Linked DNA regions of Homo sapiens: all the other regions are linked to region 2. The links come from fine-mapping of genetic effects on gene expression. A gene starts in region 2. Each other region holds a variant in brackets. All regions are shown on one strand. Distances are between the middles of the regions.

The links.
Region 1: its variant is fine-mapped to the expression of HOOK1 in gastroesophageal junction (GTEx, PIP 0.97).
Region 3: its variant is fine-mapped to the expression of HOOK1 in blood mononuclear cells (TOPMed, PIP 0.91).

The regions. Positions count from the first base shown.
Region 1 is chr1:59,512,774-59,515,273 of GRCh38, reverse strand. The region is part of intron 7 of FGGY (FGGY carbohydrate kinase domain containing); the gene reads right to left. Among named protein-coding and RNA genes, the nearest start is that of FGGY, 220 kb to the right of the region's middle. The variant G/A (reference allele first, on the strand shown) is at 1,334.
Region 2 is chr1:59,813,489-59,816,328 of GRCh38, reverse strand. It overlaps HOOK1 (hook microtubule tethering protein 1), which reads right to left and starts at 1,380. Exons shown (of 22, transcript NM_015888.6): 1 at 1,149-1,380. The coding sequence starts at 1,211. It overlaps LOC105378758 (a long non-coding RNA gene), which reads left to right and starts at 1,463. Exons shown (of 5, transcript XR_947426.3): 1 at 1,463-1,567. RefSeq lists an enhancer at 513-1,076 and a silencer at 1,313-1,912.
Region 3 is chr1:59,770,407-59,773,259 of GRCh38, reverse strand. It overlaps LOC105378758 (a long non-coding RNA gene), which reads left to right. Exons shown (of 5, transcript XR_947426.3): 5 at 2,364-2,440. It overlaps LOC101926944 (a long non-coding RNA gene), which reads right to left and starts at 465. Exons shown (of 3, transcript NR_110627.1): 1 at 223-465. The variant A/G (reference allele first, on the strand shown) is at 1,133.

The DNA of each region.
Region 1 (2,500 bases), 300 kb after region 2:
AAACAAAGGAGTTTCAGGGCCCAGGCAAGTCCAAAATCCAGCAAGGCAATCAAATTTTAAAGCTCCAAAATGACCTCCTTTGACTCCAGGTCTCATATCCAAGTCACACTGATGCAAGAGGTGGGTTCCCATGGTCTTGGGCAGCGCTGCCTCTGTGGCTTTGCAGGGTACAGCCTCCCTCCCAGCTGCTTTCCCAACAGTCCTCCAAAGTCTTAACTCATTTCAGAATTAACCCAGAAGTCCACAGTCCAAAGTCTCATCAGAGACAAGGCAAGTCTCTTCCCTCTATGAGCTTGTTACCCAGTACCAAAGTTGTGTCCACATTTTCAAGTATCTTTTCAGCAATGCCCCACTCTACTGGTACCAATTTACTGTATTAGTCTGTTTTTATGCTGCTGATAAAGACATACCCGAGACAAGGAAGAAAAGGAGGTTTAATTTGACTTACAGTTCCACATGGCTGGGGAGGTCTCATAATCATGGCGAAGAGCAAAAGGCACTTCTTACATGGTGGCAGCAAGAAAGAATAAGGAAGAAGCAAAAGCGGAAACCCCTGATAAACCTATCGGATCTCGTGAGACTTATTCACTATCACGAGAATAGCATGGGAAAGACCGGCCTCCATGATTCAATTACCTCCCCCTGGGTCCCTCCCACAACATGTGGGAATTCTGGGAGATACAACTCTGTGGAGATTTGAATGGGGACACAGCCAAACCATATCACTTACAAGCATTTGCATTTTACGGGGAACAAAAGGCTTAAGCCAAAGCTTCTAAGGGTAAAACTTCTGCCACTGAACATCTCTGTTTAGGAAAAAGGTGAGGGTCATTGACAGTCTCCCCTCCTGGAGGACATAGTGAGTCCTGGGCAGAAGTGAGAAGGTGTGTTTTGGCACGTCCCTGAGGGAAGTCTGGGAAACTGACAAGGAAACTGTAGTGCCTGCGGCTCTTCAAGCAGCAGTTCTCTTTCTTTCAGCATATGCCGGTCCCAGCCAAGTGATTGTCACCCAGGTAGGGGTGGATGATTGACACTGTCACCCCAGGGATAATTTAAAAAGCATGACAGAGAAAGCTTTTGTGGCCTCACACATGATCTGGAATGTCAGGATTGCTAGGGGACAGAAACACTCCATGTCTGCCTAGACCTCAAGTTCTCTCTGTGCTTGTATGTAAAAACCAAAATCTTAACATTCCAATCAAAAGCACACATTGCTCACACTGAAAAGTATTTGGAGAGAAACAACCTTGCCTGTAATCAGAACTACGTTACATAGCATTCAACCAACCTACATATATTATGAGTTGTTTACTAATTCTTAGGCACTGTTTTA[G/A]ATCCTGAGGACAGAGAGATGAACAGGACAGACATGTCCATAGATTGATGAGAGCGATCCTGCTCTGGAAATCCATGTAGTATGTAGAACAAGGCACCATTTAATAATCCGTTGCATAAGAAAACAGATTAATCTTCACTCTACTGTTTAAAGCCATTTCACCTTATTCTTGCCTTAATGTGACTATTCATTTAATAAACTTAATAAGCAGCTATAGGAACCAGACATAGGGCTTGGCATGAAGGATACAGGACAGATAACATAATGTTCCTGTTCTCAAGGAGTTCACACTCTAATGGAAATGACATGCAGATATATTTGAAATTACAATGCAATATGATCATTTCTTCAAATAGTGTGCTGAAAAAAAGCATAATTTAGAGAATTTCTAAATACACCTGAGTGTTTCATGGAAGGCTATGCAGAGCAGAAAGCATCTGATATGGGTCTTGCAGTTAGAGGAGGAGTTAGCCAGCTGGAGAAGTGGAGGACCAATCATTCTGGACAAAGAACATGTGTGCCAAGTCACAGAGGTGTAAATGCATGGGCAGAGTATGGAAGTGTCTGAAAGTATACACACACAGAATGGAAACACAGCTCCACAAAGCAGTGCCTTCCCTTACTTTGTGAAATGTACTCTGATGTTTTCCACTTTGTTCTATTCAATTCTGTTCCATTCTGTTGTGCAAATTCAGTGGTCATGTCCTGCTAAATTGATCTCATGAATTATAAATCATAGTTTAAAACAAAACATTGTTAGAATGAAAGGCTAGGAAAAAAATATATGGCTACAGTTGAGATGAGAGATGCTGAGAACCAGAACAACTTCCCCTGCAAAAAACACACACAACCTGCAATAAGGATGAGGAAGTCATCATTCTTTACTGTAATTCTTTGTTTCCCTGTGTGTTTTCCCATTAAAAGCTGGGGAAGAGACTTTGGTTTTATTTGGTTTTGTTTTAAGTTCACTGTCTTCTAGCACCATGCCTGGACATGGTAAGTGTTCAACGGGTGTTTTATGAATGAACAAATGAATACATGAATGAAAGACTTGAGAGTTATGTACAAGATAAAATCAAGACTGCAGCCAAGGAACTGGATACAGGACATAAGCCAAATATATTATTAAAATAAATCTAAGAGACTTATAAGGGTTTTGGAGTACCT
Region 2 (2,840 bases):
TCACAAACCCTAAATATTTGCATTCCACTAAAAGCAAAAGTTATTTACTTACAAAGTGTAAATGCTTTAAATTATGGCTATTTCCAATAGGCTTCACACATTTCCATAAACCTAGATTTCTCATTCTTTGGAATTAGATGCATTAGATCACTAGGGAATCTCAACCGATTACAGCCTCCTGATCCCGTCTGTTTACATTCCATCTGCACACACTCCCCTAGACGCAACTAAACAACTGGTTTGGGATGAGCATCATCAACAGCACCTTGTGGCTCATCAAACACCATCTTTACTCAATATGGGTTAAGAACCACACCTGAATGCCAGCACTGATATCTAAGTAACTCTAAGAGGTGGGATGTCATTTTGCTGACTGGAATATTGAACAATCTGGGGACAGATATGCCTGTCCAGACCCAACACAAATTAACAAAAATCCTAAACACAGATAAATCCTAAAGAAAAATGTCAACTCATTTTCTTTAAAGAAAATGCTGTCCATTTAGAGGAGGAGAGGGCCAGCGAGAAAAAGGGAAAACGACCCCCGACTCCCAACACATCTTTTTCTCCATACGGGAAATACAAACATCTCTTTGAAGCGGCTTCTACAAAATCGGATGTTCTAGAGTCCTGAAGGAGCATTGGTCCGGGAACTAAAACAGCCAGCCACCTCCTGGCCACCTGTGTCCAGGTAGAGCAAGGTAGTTTGAGGATGCAGGGTTAGGTTTCGGAAAGGGTCTTCACGCCCAAGCGGACCAAGGCAAGAGAGTCGGCGATCCAGAAAGTGGAGGGCTCGGGCGCTGTTCAGGGGGAGAAAATGGGGCAGCGGGGAGAAAAGAGGATGGGTGCTTGGTTCATATCCCAGCTGTTAGGGCACCAGGCAGGTCGAATCCTCTGGTTGAGACCAGAGCCTCCACTGTTACGCTCCCAGAGCTTCCTTTACCCCCACCCCCGGACACCAACCCGCGCCCACACACCTGCCCGTCGACCCGCAGGTGGCATTCTCTCGGTCAAGGGCACGAGGTGAGAAGGGCAGGGTGCGCCGGGACCCTGTGCAGGTAGCCCCAGCTCACCTGGGAGAACCGGGCGCCCCAGGCTCCTCGCCTCGGCCCCCTGGCCCCCTCGCCCTCTCGCCTCCTCGCACTCACCCAGATCATGAGGCTGTCGCACAGGGGCAGCTTAGGCTGCGGCGGCGGCTGCGTCTCCTCCATGGCCGGCGCCGCCGTCGACGACGCCGCGGACACCTTCACACTCCCTCCTACCGGCTCTCCTCCAGGAGCCGGCGTCCACGACCTGCTAGCCCCCAGGAAAGCTCGGTACCAGGCCCGACCCGCGCAGCTCACGCGCGAACCCTCGCGCTGTCGACGCGTCCGGCGTCACCCCCTCCTCACCCGCCCCCGCCTCGCTCCAGCGTTCGCCCCCTCCCCTTCCTGGGCCCCGGCCGCGCTGCCAGGCACCTGAGCCCCGCCTTCTCCCACCCCTCCCCTCCTCCCACCCGTCCTGCCCACTCCCGCACACCTCGCCCCGCCGCCCTGAGTGACCTGGCCGCGCACCAGTCACAGAGACGGTAGGTACCCGGGGGGGCGGGCGGGGCGGGGCGGGGGCGGGAAGAACCGGGATAGGTTGCGCAGGGGGGATTGCTGATTGGACGTGCCCTCGTGGGCTCTGGCCAATCAACGTGAGACAAGCCTGAGCCTTGGGTAGAGAGTGAGAGTGGGTGGGAAGAGGTTTATGACCTGGCAGGTGCAGTGAGGGCGGGGGTGGGAGGTTGCGCGCGGGAAGCGAGCGCGCGTGCGCGGCGGGGATTGGTAAGGCTGAAGCTCAGCCCCAGTGGCCGAAGAGGCAGAGGGGCAGCAGGGCACCGGCTGGGCTCAGGCGTCTTCCCTCCTTCTTCGCGGTAGCACGCCGCCTCGCTACACCTGTGGAGGGCCCACACTCTGCTTCCACATTGTCTTCAGAAATAGATCCTACCGGCTGGGCGAGGTGGCTCACGCCTGTAATCCTAGCACTTTGGGAGGCTGAGGCGGGTGGATCACCTGAGGTCAGGAGTTCGAGACCCGCCAGGCCAAGATGGCGAAACCCATTCTCTACTAAAAATACAAAGATTAGCCGGGGGTGGTGGCACATGACTGTAATCCCAGCTACTCAGGAGGCTGAGGCAGAAGAATCGCTTGAACCCGGGAGGCACAGGTTGCAGTGAGCCGAGATCATGCCACTGCACCCCAGCCTGGACAAAAAACCGAGACTCTGTCTCTAAAAAATATATAAAACAAAATAAAGAAAGAAAGAAATAGATCATACCCATGAATTAAAACTCTTCGAGGAAGGAAGAGCTGATTTCCTCCTAGGCACTCATTGGAAAGGGATGTTTTCATTTGCACACGTGGCAAATATGCCACATTAATAAGGAAAATAGAATCCGTCAGTGCTCCTTAAATAAGCTCTCACGGGACCATAGATCATGAGCAATTTTATTTTACATGGGGCAAAAGGGAAGACCGTTTTCAAGTAGCAAAATAAACGAAATGTTTTGAAAAACATGGAAGATATTAATGTATCCATTTTCCTTTGTCAGTTGAAAATTTGCTTTTTCCGAGAATGTTGTGGGGTGGAGGGGGGTCGGGGGAGGTGACCTGAAATTGGAAGCTCTCCAAGGTATTGATAGATGGCTTAGGTGATTGAAAAGGGCTAGACTATTCTTAGTCTTGCTGTCACTTCACTCATTCATAAACTCATCAATTCATGCTCTGAGTAAGAAAACAGCTGGCTTTTTTTTATATTGCTGCGTTTTTATATTTAGACACTGAAAATTTAAAACTGATGGACGACTGCAATTAAAA
Region 3 (2,853 bases), 43 kb after region 2:
ATACTAATAGCATCGCCAAGCATTCTTTTTATTTTGATTTTTATTTCATGAGACTTCAGCTTTTCCCGCCTCTCCTCTCCTAGTCGTAGGACACCACTGCCATGTAGTTTAAATGGGGCATCACATCGTCTATCTCCTACCACTGATATTTTTAAAATCTCAGCTCCACCTCAGCCCCAATTATCTTCTGACACTTATAGGAGGTGGTTTAATGCCACTTACCAGTGTGTGACCTTGAGCAAGTAATTTCATGTCTTGGGACCTCAGTTTCTTCTTCAATAGAACAGGATATTATTTACTCTTGGGGCTATGCAGATGTAATGAAATAATGAAAGTTCTTGGAACATAATTTGCATCCTAGAAAGGTGGTTATTATTATTGTTGCTGTTGATTAGTGTAAGGTAATGGTTAAGAACTTCAGCCGGACATCTTGGGTGATCTTGGGCGATCTTGGGCAAGTTATTTAATTGCTCTGTGCTTCGTTTTCCTTATCTGCAAAATATAAATAACAGTGCTGATCATTTCCGTTTGTTATGAAGATTAAGTGGGATCAGGCATAGACCAGAGCCTGCCCATGGTGAGCACTTATCCACTGTTAGCTACTATTATTATTAGTTATTCTTATTGGTATATTAACTGTTTATTCTTAAAACTAGAGTTGTGATTATAGTATGAGAAACAATATTTTTTAAACACTGAGTTAAGTTTTTGTACAAATGTAAAAGGGTTTTGGGGAGAGTAAAATAATCAGAAAAAAACGAAAAGAGTAACACATTGTTATCTCATTCTACACTTACAGTTGTAAAGGTTTATTTTTTAACCACTTCCTTACCAGCTCAATCACCTTGTAACAAAATCGACATTGTATTTATTTCCTGTAGATTCCATAACCTCCCAGAGTCTCTTTGTAAGTCTCTCTACAAAAAGAGCAGGTGAAATCAAGGCCAAATACGTGTTCCTGATATAAATAGCAGGAAGTCGATGAAATGTTTATTGTAAAAAGAGTAGGATTGAAACATATGCTTGAATACATATAAGCACAATATGTTCTCCAGCTCTATGTAGCACCTGTGTAGAACAGCTAAGCCATATGTTTCAGAAATTATACTTTAAAAATTACTATGTAGATGTA[A/G]AAAAGGAAAATGCACAATTTATACAAAAAATAAACATGTTTACTGTTAAAATAACTTCATGGTTCCTTCAAATCCTTTTTAATTGTAACAAGTTTTTATCTTGTAGTGTATGCAGAAACTTCTTACAAAACCATTAAAGTAAATAAACAGCTTAGAAGTATATTGTCAAAATGATATTAAAATATCTATACAAGGTTGAAATTTAAATCAGCACAACTTTAATAGAACTCATGACATTTAGTATTAAGAACTCATGTCGCAAAATAGCTAATGTTAGCTACACTATCCTTTAGTATTTGCTTGATCTTAAGGAAATAACTTTTTACTCTTTTTAGCAAAAGACCTAATAATATATTAATGTTGTCTGTGTTGTATGTATGGTTTAGGGTGAGGGTGTGCACAAGGAGGGGAAGTAAGTTGGAGAGGCGTGATATTCTTGGCCTGATATACATTACTAGGGAGTTTCCTACATGGAATACAGGATAGAGAAGGAAGACTTCAAAGTTAGAATGGATGGAAATACTAAATTTAAAAATATAACAAAGAAATGCATGATTGTATTATTAGTTAATAATTAATTATTAGTTAATAATTAGTTAATGTGACACTTGCTATCCCGTTAGTTTGACCCATGGTCTGGAGCTACAATTTAATTTAACTGAAGGGACAACTTTCAGTTGAAATTTCTTATATTTCCAAGTAGAGGTCTTTTTGAGCCTATTTCTAATGACTAGTTTAAACATTGATAATTAGCAACATTCATTCGTAAGGCAATAATTTCTATAGCAGTGAATATCATTTTAATTCTGTAATTAGATAACCAAAATTTTAATAATAGGAGCTATCAATTTGCTGAATAAACCTTCCAACAGATAATATGAAAGAAAAACATCTATACAACTCAGGTGAAAACATGATGATTTGGTTAATTAACCTTCGAAATACTGTGGTTGTTCCATTATGTGCAATAAAATGCTTTGTAAAAAACTTGTCTAAAGGAGTAAGTCTGGGAAATGCTTCACAGGTAATTTTTCTCTAGGAAGCTCACAATGCACATGAGTATATTACAAGATTAGTATAAGATATTCTGTAGTAACAAGACATATTTAACTCAGTGTTTCCCAAACTTAGTTGGCCATGGCTCTTTTTTAAAAATGAAATCTAGTGTTATTTTGGTAAATAGTGTTGGCTGATTATACAAAAGCCATTCCCTCCCTCCCTTTTTAACAGAACCATGATTTCATTGGAACAGCAATATGCCCAGTCCCGGAGAAGGCATCATGAGTTCTCTATGCCAGTTTTAGCAATCCATAGTGGCTGGAGTGTGATGCAGAATCTGGCCAATGAAACCTAAGGAGAAGTCTGCTGGGAGGTTCTTCCTTGATCAGGAAAAACAACAACAAGAACAACAACAACAACAACAAAAAACAAAGAACAAAAAAAGGATAGCATAGAGAGAAGATTCTCGTGTTATGGATGCTGTGAAAATAAGATGCCTTTAGAGATGTCAGCATCTTGTAATCGGAAGTAACAAACCTGAGGTCAATTGCTAGCTGATGAAGACTGGAGGAATAGGAAGATAAAAAGGGCTTGGCTCTTTGATGGAACTGTTGAATCCTCAAGTTGACTTGATGGCTGCCTGTCCCTGTAAATAACAACTATCTTATCATATCAATTTAGCTGTCAGATGGGTTATTATTACTTGCACCTAAACACCATT